2 separate regions of the Homo sapiens genome follow, and region 1 is linked to region 2. A link means that fine-mapping ties the variant in region 2 to the expression of a gene that starts in the linked region. Tissue or cell type: whole blood. Region 2 holds a variant in brackets; the other region holds the start of a gene. All regions are shown on one strand. Distances are from middle to middle.

The links. PIP is the estimated chance that this variant, and not a neighbour inherited with it, causes the effect.
Region 1: ITGA6 starts here. The variant in region 2 is fine-mapped to the expression of ITGA6 in whole blood (TOPMed, PIP 0.97).

Annotation. Positions count from the first base shown.
Region 1 is chr2:172,425,968-172,428,651 of GRCh38, forward strand. It overlaps ITGA6 (integrin subunit alpha 6), which reads left to right and starts at 1,619. Exons shown (of 26, transcript NM_000210.4): 1 at 1,619-2,003. The coding sequence starts at 1,822. RefSeq lists a silencer at 1,567-1,646 and an enhancer at 2,431-2,684.
Region 2 is chr2:172,217,872-172,220,555 of GRCh38, forward strand. No RefSeq gene overlaps it. Among named protein-coding and RNA genes, the nearest start is that of DLX2-DT, 120 kb to the left of the region's middle. The variant G/A (reference allele first, on the strand shown) is at 1,152.

The sequences.
Region 1 (2,684 bases), 210 kb after region 2:
GAGTTACTGATTGGAAAGGAAGTGGTACACACCCCTAATATACTGACGGACTTACTCTGACAGCTGCTACCACCTGTGGGGACCCTTGATGATGTTCACGCAGCTTTTCTGAGTGGCACATGCTGTTCTCTTGAATACTCCTTGAGGTGAAGAAGAGGCCACCCCTACCCCTATGCACACACAGCTCCTGCTCTTTCCTGGGGCTGCACCCTGCTTGTATTTCCAATGCAGGGATGTCAGATTCCAAAGAGGGCTCCCCAAGGCATTCCAGAAGGCTTCAGGCCAGCACGTCCCAACCTTTTCATGCCATGGGACCCCTTTGGCAGGCTGCTGAAAACCATGGGGTTCTTCTCAGAATAAGGGTTTTAAATACATAAAAGAAACCACAAGAGGTTACAAAAAAAGCCAATAATATTGAAATGTAGCTAACAAAATGTTTTTAAAAATTTGTGCTAGAGCAATATATATGCTTCATTATTGACATATAATATCTGGCTGATTGTCTAATAACTACTGTTATTTGAGATACTTGCAACAACTGTGATGTGATGTAAAAACCTATGGTTTCTAGTGATTACTAAGTCATAAATACTTATCCTACTGCTACTGTAGTTTGTTGTCTACGTTCATAATGGCAAAACGTGCTAAATGTCAGAGGTTGGTGAAAATTAAGACGTAAATTTTTTCTCATCCAAGTTCACAGTACTCTTGAATTAATTACCTCTCCTCGGGTTAAGAACCCCTGCAGGATAAGGTTGCCCCTAGGGCCAACACCTCACTGGAGCCCCGCCTCATGTCCTGGAGGCAGGAGCCTTCATGCCACCTACACAGAACTCGGAGCTGTCTCTTGGCCCAGCAGTTCTCCCCACAACTAGTTCTGAAAGTCCGGGGCTAGGAAAGAACGGCATCGTCGCCTGAGCTCCTGGCGCCACTTTAAACAACCCATCCTTGACTTGCGTGACTTCTTCCACAAGCTCTCCTGGTCACCTGGGCAAAATCCTAGGTGATCTGGGGACAAGGCGGAACTTCGGTTTTCTGATCTGCAAAAAGAAACACCTACCTCATAGGACTGTTAGGATGAATTGAGGTAATGGCTGGGTTGTGTACATTATACAGCACTATCAAGGTGTGCGCTGTGATCATTTTTGAGGGTTGTTAGGTGTTTGAGGACCCAGAACAGTCTACACAGCTGTAGTCCCCAAGTGTTGGGCACGCCTTAAGCGCTCCATAAACACCTGTAGAAATGAATGAATGACGTATGCATCTGCACGTGGGCCCACATCTGCAAGAACAGGCTGCTCAGGCCATGAGGCCCGGTGCATCACCTGCACTTCTCTTTATAACGGGTAGTAAAGTCTCCCTCGCTCTGTGCTACTCGGCAACCACAATTCTGTCCACAGAGGGCGGCGCAGTGGGGCTGCTTCGCCGCGAGCTCGCCTCCGGGGCTCCCACGTCGTGGCTTCCGGGCAGGTACCGGGCAGCTGGAGACGCCAGAGCCGGCGGGTAAGGTGCGGGCGGTGCGCCGGGCCGCGGGCGCGCAAGGAGGGGCGAGAGGGTGGGGAGGGGCGGGGCCGGCGTCCTCGTCACTTGATAAAACGCCTGCGAGTCTCCAGAGAACAACGGGCTCATTCAGCGGTCGCGAGCTGCCCGCGAGGGGGAGCGGCCGGACGGAGAGCGCGACCCGTCCCGGGGGTGGGGCCGGGCGCAGCGGCGAGAGGAGGCGAAGGTGGCTGCGGTAGCAGCAGCGCGGCAGCCTCGGACCCAGCCCGGAGCGCAGGGCGGCCGCTGCAGGTCCCCGCTCCCCTCCCCGTGCGTCCGCCCATGGCCGCCGCCGGGCAGCTGTGCTTGCTCTACCTGTCGGCGGGGCTCCTGTCCCGGCTCGGCGCAGCCTTCAACTTGGACACTCGGGAGGACAACGTGATCCGGAAATATGGAGACCCCGGGAGCCTCTTCGGCTTCTCGCTGGCCATGCACTGGCAACTGCAGCCCGAGGACAAGCGGCTGTGAGTTCCCAGACCCTTCCCACCCCCACTGGGGCGCCGGCCTGCGCGCGAGTTGAGGCGAGGGCGCGCCCTGTTCCCGCCGGCCCCGGGGAGTAGTTGGCCCGTGGGTCGCGCCCGGGCCGGCCGAGGCGCACCCAGCGCCCAGCGCGCTCGGCTCCCCGCCCTGACCCGCCCCGCGCGGCGCCTCCCTCCATTCAGCTCGGGAAGGAGGAGAACCCGAGGGCTAGGCTGGGCCCCGGGAGAGTTTACTTTTTTTTCTGTTTTAAACAAAGTGCTTTCCGCCGGTTCTTCCCTCCGGGCGTGTTTGCTGGGACCCCGGCAGGTGGCACGCTTTGCTGAGCTTCACGTGTGTGTTTGGGGCTGGGGTGGCGTTCAGGGTCACCGCAGCGCTGCTGTGGGTTTGCAGGGAGCGTAGTTCCAGGATGGTCTAGGCCTTTCCCAAACTCACGGTGCACCCCGTCTCCCCCGCAGACTGGCGCGCCCCGCACAAGTTGGAAAGCCACTTTCCATGTGTCCTGCATGACTTTCTCAGCAAGGCGGGGGCGCTCCTTAGGAGATACTTTTACATGCCTTTGAAAAAAAAAAAAAAAAAGATGGGGGTGGGGGCGGGAATTAACCAAACACCTGTTCGCTGGACTAGATCAGCTGAGAAAACAAGTCTGAGTGATGTGCCCAGCCCCC
Region 2 (2,684 bases):
CTTATTTTTCCTTTTCCATAGTTTGTGTGTGTACTTCTTTTTGTGCTGGTATAGAGTAGAATTACTTTGCCATAGGTTAATGAGCCTCATTTGTGCTAAGTGAAGACTGGGTGAATAATATTGTTGCAGGTGTTTGAACCTACAAAAGTGATGGAAAATTGGGGCATCACCTAGTTTGACACTATATGCACGTCAAACATGAATGACCTGTGCCATAGCTATCAATGTTTTTGCAAGTGTGATTTGGTTTCAGCAAATAGCATCATTTCCCATACCAATTTAATGTTTGTAGCTTGATTTCATTGATTTTGCAGTTTTGAATATGTTTAATTTGTAAGGTTATTTTGACTTTATTATTACTTGTATATCTAAGCCTAAAGACCTTACACTGAAATTTCTATGTGCATATATTTAAGTAATATATAATGAAAATAATTTAAATTAACTTTGGGGTCTATATAAATTTGTTTTTGTTTCTTTTTAAAGGAATCTCTTCTGATATCAGTAAGGATAGGATAACTTATATAGCAATATACAAACAAATTTCAGTTACTTAACTCAATAGCAGTTGAGGGAATTTTGCTAATTGAGGTCACTCAGTGACCCAGGCTGACTGAGGCTTCATTTTGACTTGAACATTCTTTTAAAAAATATTGCATTCAAATATAATCCACATATAGTCACAATATGCCACTATAAAGGGTATAATTTGGTGTTGCTTAGTATATTCACATAGGTTATACAATCTAATCTCTCACCACTGTCTAATTTGAGAACATTTTTGTCATCCTGAAAAGAAGCCCTGTGGCTACTAGCAGTTACATTTTCCCTATTCCCTAACCCCTAGCAACCACTAATTTGCTTTCTGTCTCTGTGGATTTACCTATTCTGGATATTTCACATAAATGAAACCATACAACACATGGCCTCTTATGTCTGGCTTCTTCCACCTAGAATAATGGTTTCAAGGCTCATCTATGTGTTGTTTTGTTTTTTGAGACAGAGTCTTGGTCTGTCACCCAAGCTGGAGTACAGTGGAGCGATCTCAGCTCACAGCAACATTTGCCTCCCAGGTTCAAGCGATTCTTCTGCCTCAGCCTCCCCAGTAGCTGGGATTACAGGCATGCGCCACCATGCCCAGCTTAATTTTC[G/A]TATTTTCAGTAAAGTCGAAGTTTCACCATGTTGGCCACGGTGGTCTCGAACTGAGCTCAGGTGATCCACCTGCCTTGGCCTCCCAGAGTGCTGGGATCACAGGCATGAGCCACTGCACCCAGCCTAAGGCTCATCTATGTTATAGCATGGATGAGGACTTCATTCCCTTTTTATTGCTAAATAATATTTCATCTTATTGATGCACCACATTTTGTTTATCCTCATTTATCAATTGATGGACATTTGGGTTGTTTCCACCTTTTGGCTATTGTGAATAATGCTGCTATGAAAATTCATGTGTACATTTTATGCAAACTTATGTTCTTAATTCTCTTGGGTATATACCTGGGGTGAAATTGCTGAGTCATAAGATAATTCTACTTTTGAGGAACTGCCAAACTGTTTTCTACGTGGCTGCACCATTTTACATCAGCAATGCATAAAGTCTCTAATTTCCCTACATCCTCTCCGATAGCTGTTGTTGTCCTTTTTGATTATAGCCATCTTAGTAAGTGTGGTTTTGATTTGCATTTCCCTAATGACTAATGATGTTAAACAACTTTTCATGTGCTTATTGGCCATTTATATATTTTCTTGGGATAAATCACCATTCAGATCCTCTTGTTTATTTTTTAATTGGGTTAACTTGTGAGATTTAAAAAAATATATATATATGTTCTGGATGGTAGATCCTTATCAGACATGATTTGAAAATTCTTTCTGTAGGCTGTCTTTTCACTTTGTTGATAGTGTCCTTTGATGCACAGAAGTTTTTAATTTTTATGAAGTCCAATGTATTTTTAATTTGGTTGCTTATGTTTTAGGTGTCATAGCTAAGAAACTTGTTAAGCATCTTTGATAAATGTTATGGCAAAATGTACACTGGCTTTGAAGCTTCCACCTGGTAGCTCCACGTATTACTGATGATCGCCTTCTGTTGGCCACAGAATGCCACATGGTTTCACCTAAAAGGGCAGAGAAGCACAAATCTTGACATGTTTCTGGAAATGGAGAAACTAGAAATATTTGGTAAATAGCACTAGTGACTGCCATGATTTAGCTCATGTTTTGGAAACATCAAAATTGGAATCACCTAAAAACAATGTATCTGGTTTATGTTAGAATCAAAAGATTTGTCTTCATTGAAATACTAGATCTAATGTCTTTGCCTTTTCTCAAGGGCCTTTAAGATAAATGGTCATATGAAAAGTTTTATATCTTCAGCAAGTTTGGCCCAAAGCATACTCTTTGTTATGTTACTTGGTGCCTCTTATGTAAGGAAATGCATGGCAATTCTTCTTAGAATTTAGCAACAGGAAGGTATTTATTTCTAGATAGACTTATGTGCTTCCCTTTTGTTTTAGAATGGGAAATATGCTTCTATTTTTACTTTTGTTGCTAGGAAACTCAGAGCTGAAATTAATGACCACCTTATATCTTCCCAGTATAGCTAACACTCTCTTCTCAAATATTAAGATCTTTTTTTCTTATACATTTAACTGTCTGTCATGCTTTTATTCTGCACTACCTCA